2 separate regions of the Homo sapiens genome follow, and region 1 is linked to region 2. The links come from fine-mapping of genetic effects on gene expression. A gene starts in region 2. The other region holds a variant in brackets. All regions are shown on one strand. Distances are from middle to middle.

Evidence for each region. PIP is the estimated chance that this variant, and not a neighbour inherited with it, causes the effect. A credible set is the group of variants that fine-mapping cannot tell apart.
Region 1: its variant is the best candidate, but not a certain one, in a credible set for the expression of PLSCR1 in whole blood (TOPMed, PIP 0.52).

Annotation. Positions count from the first base shown.
Region 1 is chr3:146,566,885-146,572,271 of GRCh38, reverse strand. It overlaps the pseudogene RNU6-428P. Among named protein-coding and RNA genes, the nearest start is that of PLSCR5-AS1, 20 kb to the left of the region's middle. The variant A/T (reference allele first, on the strand shown) is at 3,155.
Region 2 is chr3:146,542,321-146,547,707 of GRCh38, reverse strand. PLSCR1 (phospholipid scramblase 1) reads left to right here and starts at 3,101. Exons shown (of 9, transcript NM_021105.3): 1 at 3,101-3,241. RefSeq lists an enhancer at 2,772-3,251.

The DNA.
Region 1 (5,387 bases), 25 kb before region 2:
AATTATGTAGAACCTAATTATAGAATTAGAAAATAATTTAGAACAGAATGTAGTCTGGATATTGACATATTGTATTTACATTAAAATTGTATCTGTCATTCTAAGGGAAGAAATTATTTCTTCTTGTGTGTTCACAACTGTCACTATCTTATTCCTAAGCCTGCTTATTCTCCCTGACACTAGCCTCTCCATCTTACAGTCCATTCTCCATATAATTGCTAGATTAATCTTTTTTTTTTCTTTTTTTTTGAGATGGAGTCTCCTGAGACACCAGGCTGGAGTGCAGTGGTGTGATTTCAGCTCCCTGCAACCTCCACCTCCTGGGTTCAAGTGATTCTCCTGCCTCAGCCTCCCAAGTTGCTGGGACTACAGTTTTGTTTTGTTGTTGTTGTTGTTGTTGTTTTGTGGGTATTTTTTTTTTTTTTTTGTATTTTAGTAGAGATGGGGTTTCACCATGTTGGCCAGGATGGTCTCCATCTCCTGACCTGATGACCCACCCTCCTAGGCCTCTCAAAGTGCTGGGATTACAGGCGTAAGCCACCGCGCCCGGCCTGGATTGATCTTTTAAAACCAAGTGTCTGAAAGTGCCTTTTAAAGTTCAAAATGGCGCACTGAAAATAACTTGTCTCTCCTCTCTCCTAAGTCCACAATACAATTATAGCAAATGCAAATGCTGATAGAAAAAACAACCTCTCAAATTTACCTCACAAATTTTCGTGTCATCCTTGTGCAGGGACCATGCTAATCTTCTCTGTATCGTTCCAATTTTGGTATATGTGCTGCCAAAGCAAGCACAGGATATTTTTAAAAAGATATTCATAAATTCTAGGCTGAAGTTCCAAGTCATATTGGAACACTGATAGATGGAGGAATATGTGAGCCTATCATTCAGATTAAATGTGCACATGTGAACAGTCTATGATGGAGAAAAGTCCTTATCCCAGGGAGCTACCTGGCTCAAAGACAGCAATACCAGGCAAGGTGGGAGTACGAAGAACAACTCAAAACAGAGTTAATTGAAAGTCTGTATAATGAAATATGCTAGTCAGGTGTCCCACACCAACCTCACTGCTAGTCTCTTCCTTATCTCAATGAACACTAAGCCTAAGCAGCCCAGCATTATACTTTCAGGAATCCAAATTAGTACTCTTATTGAATCTTAATTAATTGCACAGGGAGAACTAAGGTTTTGAAGTTTCTGGAATGGCTTCCCATGCCAAAGGATGGCACTCTCCTCATTTTAGCATCCAAAGAGCGATCTCCTCACCTGCTCACCCTAATTGTGATAAGCACTGTCTCTACCTTGGTTCCCAGTCCTAGTCCTACTAGTGGGAGAGACCTAGTAGAAAAATGGACATATACGACAGAGAAAAATAACAAGAGTCACCGGTCTTCCATTCTTAAATATAAGTGAACTAAGAACCACTACATATATGAAGCATAGAAAACCAAGACAACCAAAAAATAGGTGACCAATGAAGAAACAAATGTAAATCAAAAAACATAAAAAAATTTTAAAAACAAAATTCTACTGTATTTTGAGGAATTTGAAAAATTAATACATCCATTAAGGAAGGACAAGAGGGTCTGAAAAATAAATAAAAGGAAATGTAAATTACACATGCAATATAAACATATTACTACGTTCCTGGAATGGCTATGATTTAATATAATAATCCAAAGAAAATTTTCATTTTCTATTTGAATTAAGAGTTTTCACTCCCTTTCCAGGAAATATTTTAACATAAGTTCTAATAAGAAGCATAATCCACACATTTTAAATATTATGTCTTTTAATTCTCAAAAGAAGGTAAATATCAGCAATGAAGACATCACTAACCAAAACAAAGTAGTCAAAACATGTAGATTTCACATAAACAAATGTATAATCAGTTGCTGACTGTTTTGCTTACATATACTTAATAAATGCACCAGTCACTGTGCACTTTGGCACAAGAATTAGGAGCCAGATTTGTGTATTGGTAAAATAAAATAAAACAGAAGCTTAATTTTTTGTTTGATTTCATAACACTATAAAAGAAAGAAAAGAAAAATTGTAAATGTATAATCCACATGAATGATTCACAAACTGTCACAAGTAATTGACAAACTGCTAGCTGTTTTCTTAGATATTAGTATTACTTTTCTGAAACAAATAAAAATTCTATCAAATATATATATATTATAAAACATTTCCAGCTATAGGAAATTAATGTTATCTCCTTCTTACCCACAGTCTTTAATAACCACTATGAATGAACTATTCAAATTTTCCATGAGATGAATGTACAAAAACATTATTGTATTGCTTTGTATTATAAATAACATGGATTTTGCAAAAATAAATACCATAAGTAAAGTAGAATGGATTTTTTAAAACATGCATTCAATAATTATAAAAAGATTTACAGTGAGTCACTCTTAGAGTAAACTCTTTGGTATGACTTATGATTCTTTTTCATTGTAGAAGGTAAAACATATTTCAACTTTTGATATTCAACTTTTAATTCTATCCCTTTGTTCTCACAAAATAGGGTCCACCATGTGCATTTATGAATGCAACAGACGTTTATATAGGCACATCACTCACTGTATTTATGCCTGGTTGTGGCTTCCAGAGAATACCAAAATGTAAATATCTTTGCAAGATGGAATGTTTCCGTTATTCAAACTGCAAATTGAACAGCTGTGAGGGCTGAGGAATTATCAAAAATCACCACACAGGATGCAGATTTTAATTCCTGCCCTTCACACATTTATGCACAATTACAAGAACAAGAAAACAAAAACAAACCTGCACATGTATTAGCCTACAAGAGAGGGAGGCAGTGAAACCTCAATGTTGAAAAGCTGAAATACGAGTATAACACCTTTCAAATTCAATTCTGAAGCAAAAAGAATTACATCTTAATTTTAAATCTCAGCCTGACTAACTTTATTCAAATTTAACTATGCTTGAGGCACTCTGATTTTCCTGCATTCATTTATGCTTTTCCCTCTCCCTTAGTACATTTTTTTTCTATTTTTCTACCTGCCCAAATGCTCTTCATATTTAGTTTTTGTTTTTATTTTTGAGGCAGGGTCTCACTGTCACCCATGCTGGAGGGCAGTTGTGTGATTACAGCTTATTGCAGCCCTGAATTCTGGGCTTAAG[A/T]AATCTTCCCACCTCATCCTCCTTGAATAGCTGAGACCATAGACACATGCCAGTATACCCTGCTAATTTTTTTTTTTTTTTTTTTTTTTTTTTGTAGAAATGGGATCTCAGTATCTTGCTCAGGCTGGTCTCAAACTCCTGTCCTCAACCGATTCTCAGTAAGCCTCGCAAAGTGCTGAACAGGCATGAGCCACCATGCCTGATTTACTTTATCTTTTAATGTCAACACAGTTTCTGCCTCAAAATTGTTCTCTAATTTTTGTCCAGTGTGTGTTACTTTCTCCATTCACTTCATGCAAAAAAAAAAAGTAATGGTAAGTTTATTATGAAATTACCATATTCTACTGTGTATTACAGCTATTTACTTTCTGTCTCTGATGCACTTTCTTTATTAGACTGTGAGCTCGTTCTGGGCAGGATTTGACTCAGAACCATTTTTGTGTCTGTTCCCCATGGTGTCAAGAACACTGTGCTTTGGATATAATTAATTTCCATAAACATCAATTGTCTTATTGTATACCAGATGAAAAATTTAAGCAGATACTTGTAATATCAAAGACTTGACTAATATTCATCATTGAAATTTCACAATGGAGAGTATGTCAATCATCCATTACAACTTTCCATGTAAAATGAACAAACAAACAAACAGGAGTTTTATGTAACTACAAGCTCAGGCAACTGCCTAGAAAGCCAAACATTTACCGAGATAAATTGACAGAAATGTATGTCCATAACATAGGGGTAGCTATGGCACTGCATGTGTCAATAATTGAAATGGTTTGGCTGTATCCCCACCCAAATTTTACCTTGAATTGTAATAATTTTCATGTGTCAAGGGTGGGGCCAGGTGGAGATAATTGAAAAATGGGGTCAGTTTCCCTCATACTGTTCTTCTGGTAGTGAATAAGTCTCATGAAATTTGATGGTTTTATAAATAGAAGTACCCCTGCACAAGCTCTCTTTCTTGCCACCATGTAAGACGTCCCTTTGCTCTTCTTTAATCTTCTGCCATGATTGTGAGGCCTCCCCAGTCATGTGGAACAGTGAGTCCATTAAACCTCTTTCCTTTATAAATTTCCTTTATACCAGTCTAAGGTATGTCTTTATTAGCAGCATCAGAATAGACTGATAAGTAAATTGGTACAGGGTAGTGGGGTGCTGCTGTAAAAATACCCAAAAATGTGGAAGTGACTTTGGAACTGGTTAACAGGCAAGGATTGGAACAGTTTGGAGGACTCCAAAGAAGACACGAAAATGTGGGAAAGTTTGGAACCTCCTAGAGACTTGTTGAATGGCTTTGACCAAAATGATGATAGTGATATGGGCAATAAGGTCCAGGCTGATGTGGCCTCAGAAGGAAATGAGAAACTTGTTGGAACTGGAGCAAAGGTGACTCTCTATGTTTTAGCAAAGAGACAGGTGGCATCTTGCCCCCGCCCTAGAGATCTGTGGAACTTTGAACTTGAGAGAAATGATTTAGGCCATCTGGTAGAAGAAATTTCTAAGCAGCAAAGTGTTAAAGAGGTGACTTGCGTACTGTTAAAAGCATTTGGTTTTATGCACTCACAAAGATATGGTTTGGAATTGAAACTTATGTTTAAAAAAGAAGCAGATCATGAAAGTTCAGAACATTTGCAGCCTGACAATGTGATAGAAAACCCATTTTCTGAGGAGAAATTCAAGCCAGCTGCAGAAATTCTCATACATAACAAGCAGCCAAATGTTAATCACCAAGACAATGGGAAAAATGTCTACAGGGCAGTACAAAGGCCTTCACGGCAGCCCTTCCCATTACAAACTAGGAGACTTAGGATGAAGAAATGGTTTCCATAGGCCGGGCCAGGGCCTTGCTGCTTTATGCAGTCTCAGGACTTGGTTCCCTGCATCCCAGCTGTGGCTAAAAGGGGCCAACGTACAGCTCAGGCCGTTGCTTCAGAGGGTGCAAGCCCCAAGTCTTGGTGGCTTACACGCAGTGTTGGGCCTGCAGGTACATGGAAATCAAGAATTGAGGTTTGGGAACCTCCATTTAGATTTCAGAGGATGTATATAAATGCCTGGATGTTGAGGTGGAAGTCAGCTGCGAGAGTGGAGCCCTCACTGCTAGGGCAATGTGGAAGGGAAATGCGGGGTGGGAGCCCCCACACAGCATCCCCACTGGGGCACTGCCTAGTGGAGCTGTGAGAAGAGGGCCACTGTCCTCCAGACCCCAGAACAGTAGATCCACTGACAC
Region 2 (5,387 bases):
ACTTATTTTAGTCTGTGCATGGCCCACCCATTATTTTACCACTTCCATCTGCACCTCTTTTCCACACTGTGCACTTGTCTTAGTCACAGTTTTGCTAAGCCCACAAGCTAACCCTTGTGAAAAACAAGGGTTTTTGTTAAAAAAAAGTTTTTGTTAAAAACATCAAAGTGAGTGAAAAACAAACATCACTGGACAGCTTCTTTGAAAATGGGGAAAAACCCAAAGGTGAGATAACAGAAGACTCTAAGACTGCTAACAAAAAGAAAGCTGCACTTAAAGGAAAATGCCAAGAGTCCTACTTAAATTACAGGTTCATTGCAACAGGTGGTTCACATTCTCCAATCCTGCTTTGTATAATATGTGGTGACCAACTGCCCAATGAAGCCATGAAACCTGCAAAACTACTTTGCCACATGGAGACCAAGCACTCTGCATTAAAAGACAAGCCTTTGGAGTTTTTTGTTTTGTTTTGTTTAAAAAAAAAACAGAAACCATGAAACCATGAACACAAAGAACACATAGAAGCAATTATTGAAGGCCACCATGTCATCAAATGTGTCTGCACTGAGAGCATCATTCATAGTGGCTAACTGCATTGCTAAAGCTAAGAAGCCCTTTACTATTGGTGAAGAATTGATCCTGCCTGCTGCTAAGGACATTTGTTGGGAACTTTTAGGAGAGGCTGCAGTTCAAAAAATAGCACATATTCCTCTTCTGGCTAGCACCATAACTAGATGAATTGATGAAATAGCAGAGAATATCGAGGTACAATTGTTAGAGAGGATTAATGAGTCACCATTAATCCTCTCTAGCAATTGGTATGCAATCCAGGTTGATGAGTCTACTGATATTGACAACAAAGCAACAATGCTTTTTTGTGTGTGATATATTTTTCAGGAAGATGTGCACAAGGATATATTATGTGAATTTTTGTTGCCAATCAAAACCACAGCTGAAGAACTATTTGTCTTTGAATGATTACATATCAAGAAAACTGAATTGGTTATTTTGTGTAGGTATATGCATGGAAGGAGTGGCTGCCATGACTGGATGGCTTTCTGGTTTCACTACTCTGGTCAAAGAGACCAGAATGTGAGTCTATGCACTGTGTCATCCACAGAAAAATGCTGGCTAGCTGAAAAATGTTACCTGAACTTAACAATGTTTTGCAGGATGTGACAAAAATAATCAACCACATTAAAGTACATTTTCTTAACTCACATCTGTTTGTGCAGCTCTGTGAGGAGATGGACACTGGGCATGCATGTCTTCTCTTATACACAGAAATGAGATGGCTTTCTAAAAGTAGATCACTGGCTGAAATTTTTGAATTATGAGAGCTGCTCCAGAGATTTATTTTAGAAAATCAGTCACCATTGGCGGCACATTTCAGTGACACAGAAAGGGTTGCAAAACTTGCTTACTTGTGTGATGTATTCAACTCGATCTATGAACTCAACTTGTCGCTTCAGGAGAGAAGGACAACTGTGTTCAAGGAAGCAGATAAATTGGTTGCATTGAAAGCCAAACTGGAATTATGGGGGCAACGAATGAACATTGAGATTTTTGACATGTTTCAAACATTAGCAGAGATTTTGAAGAAGACTGAGCCAGCAGCTTCTTTCTCTCAGCTGATGCATGATCACCTATCTTAGCTTTCAAAAGAGTTCGAGCATTACTACCCAACCACAAAAGAACCCTGAACTGGGAATGAATGTATCCATGACCCATTTGTGAGTAAGTCAGGTGAATCGATTTTGTCCGTACTAGAAGAGGATCAATTGCTTGAGATCACAAATGATGGTGGCCTTAAAAGTATGTTTGAGACAGCTTCAAATCCCATGTTCTGGATTAAACTCAAGGTGGGATATCCTGAGATTGCCACAAAAGCACTGAAGAGTCTGCTTCCATTTCCAACATGCTATCTTTGTGAAGCAGGATTTTCTGCAGTGACAGCAACCAAAACAAGATTACGGAGTAGACTGGACATAAGCAACACACTTCTGGTGTCACTGTCTCCCACCGTTCCCAGATGGGACCTTCTAATTGCAGGAAAACAAGGTCAGGGCTCCCACTGATTCCACATTATGGTGAGTTGTATAATTATTTTATTATATATTACAATGTAATAATAATAGAAGTAAAGTGCGCAATACACGTAATGTGCTTGAATCATCCTGAAACCGTCTGCCACCCGGCCCTGGTCCATGGAAAAATCCTCTTCCGTGAAACTGGTCCCTGGTGCCAAAAAGGTTGGGGACCACTGGTTTATCCAGGGTCATCCAGGTTGGAGTGGGGTCAGGAGAAATGGGGAAATTTAGGTAAAAGTATACAAAGTTACAAACACGTAGGATGAACAAATGGGAAGACCTAATGTACAACATGAGGGCTATAGTTAATGATAGTGGTATTCAGGATTTATGCTAAATAAGTAGATTATAGCTGCTCTTGCCCCAAGGGGGGAAATGTGTAATTATAGGAGTTGATGGATATGTCATACAAATAACTTAAATACACAGAATAAAAACTATTTTAGTTTAAAAAGGAACAATATTTATAAAAAAATAAAGTGAGCTCGAAAACATTCAAATAACTGCTTAAAAATTAAAAAGTAATATCACATAATTTAATAGAAGGAAAGAAAGAGCAAGACAGCAAGAAAGAAAAGGCACCATAAAGAAAAACAATTTTGGCCCCTCCTCATTTGTAGTCTTAAGCTGCCTCTACTCCCTCGCCTTGAAAAGCCACGGGCTTCCGAGGGATGGAGGTCAAAGCCAGAGTAAAGAAAGTTCCCGGGGGAGGCCACTCCCCAGCTGATGACTTTCCAGTTCCAGTTAGTGTCGGAGTCCCAGTTCCTCTCCTTAACCACCGGACAAACGTCTCTGGAGTCTCTCCAATGAGCAAGAAAGCAAGTCGGGGGTAGGGGAGGGGCCTCACACCAGGGGGTGGGCGCAGTCCCTCCTCCAGCTCCTTCACCCTCCAGTAGTCTCGTGGGTCCCCGAGCGCCAGCGCGGGAACCGGGAAAAGGAAACCGTGTTGTGTACGTAAGATTCAGGAAACGAAACCAGGAGCCGCGGGTGTTGGCGCAAAGGTTACTCCCAGACCCTTTTCCGGCTGACTTCTGAGAAGGTTGCGCAGCAGCTGTGCCCGGCAGTCTAGAGGCGCAGAAGAGGAAGCCATCGCCTGGCCCCGGCTCTCTGGACCTTGTCTCGCTCGGGAGCGGAAACAGCGGCAGCCAGAGGTGCGCGGGCGGCTTTCTCTGCCGCCTCCTGGGGACTTGGGCGCGGGAACTGCGCGGAGCCTGCGCTGGGGCCAGGGCCGGGGTCAGGTGTGGAGGGCAACTTGTGGGGAACCGGCGCGAGGGCCCGCAGGTTGTGTTTGCTGCTCTGGGGGTGGAGGATGTGGGGTGAAGGTTGGGGCCAGAAATGCAAGAGGCCTCTGAAAGGGACCCTGGAAGTGGAGCAGGTACACGGCAAGGGGCCCCAGGCGGCCCAGCGGCACCCGGGCTCACCCCAGAACCATTCGAATGACAAGGGGTGCCCTGCCTGAAAACGCCTTGCGGGGCTCAGCTTCCCCTTAGCTACACTGCTTTACAGGTAGAGAGCGGCCCTGAATCCTGGGTAGAGTCTGGGCTCAGGAGCATGTGCCAGCGTAGTGGGGCTATTAGAAGGAATGGTTAATACAGCCTGCAAGCTGTCATTTATCAGTAAGTATTCAATGAAGTCCGCCGGAGCCCACATCTATGCTAGGCCCTCTACAATACCAGCTTAGGAAAGATAGTGGCGGTATCTAGCACGGTTCCTAAGACCATTAGCTCCAGTCAGGCTCCCCGACTTTAAATTCGGCCTCTACTGCTTCACGTCTGTGGACTGTCAGCCACTTTCTTCTTATATATGTTCTTTCCATTGCCTCATCTCTGAAATTGTGTAACTATTAAATGAGCTACAGAGTATTAATGTAAAATTCTTAGAGCAGTGCCTGGCGCTACAGAAAGTACTCAGTGAAAGTTAGCTCTTATTATTTTAAATATTTGACAAAGTTCCTGCTTCTCCAAGCTGATTCTCTGGTTCCCAGGTGGTTTCATTCATGCACTGTTATTCCTGGAAGTCTTGGCATGGCCACTTCCCAGTTCCAGGAACAGGCAGTCGTTGTTTTTTCTGGCTTATCACATTGAGATACATGGTTACTACAAGTGACACTTAAACGTGTCAGACAGTTTGGGGGCTCCCTTCTTGAACTTTTTCTAAGAGCAAACCTTTGTCTTAATGCCACCCTGTTTACAACAATAGTAGGGCTTTGAACAATGAGAAAATGCGGGGAAATGAAAAAGACATATAAAGGGAAAGAGTGGATTTATGCAATTGGATAGAAAAGTGGCATGTAAAATAGCTGGTTTATAGATCAAACTGCCTTTAGATCTGTAAAGGAGCTTAGAGTACATACAGGTGGAGAGACATCAGATGTGTGTGAGCAGACCCTTATGTACTTCTCCATCTTCATCTCTAAGAATGTCTCCCTCTTTTGCTCTGTAACCTCACTCGTCTTCCTTTACTTGAATGAGGGACGTTCCTCCAGCTCAGGAATTCTACCTATGGAGTTCCCTCTATCTATGATGCCCTCCAACACCCCACCCACCATACCTCCATAGACTAGTTGATTTGAGACTTCCTTCATCTCCTAGTCTGACTTTTCTTAAACCCCCTACCACCATCTAAGTTAGTGCCCCATAACCCTTTCTTATAGCAACATTAATTTTATTTATAGCACTTAGAGTATTTTTAATAATATATTTAATTCTTAATTGTCTGTCTCCCCTAGTGTCTAGGTATTGTGCTCTAGTGCCTGGTATAGTGCCTTGCATGCTCTATGCCTTCAATTAATTCCTTTAAAACCACACAAGCTTTATATTTAGTGAATATTTATATAGGAAGAATTTCTATGTGTATATATGTGTATCTGTGTATATACACACTGTATTGCACTGCCCTGAATAGTGCTAAATTAAAAAACCAAAACACTTTTTAATCAGAACTTAATAGTTGCACTCTTCAATTTTCCATATGTTCTTTTAAGAAGTGATTAGAAAAAAATGATGTCTCCATATGTTGTCTGCTGCTGTAAAAGAATACCTGAGACTTGGTAATTTATAAAGGACAGAAATTTATTTCTTACAGTTCTGGAGGCTAGGAAGTCCAACATAATCATGTGTTGCTTAAATACAGGAATACATTCTGAGAAATGCATCATGAGGCAATTTTGTGGTTGTGAGAACGTCATAGAATTTACTTACACAATCCTGGATACTATAGCCAGCCTACTATTTAGGCTGGGGTGGTGGGGTTGGGGGTGTTGAGGAGAGTCAGATTGAGAGCTGAGGGAAGTCTCAA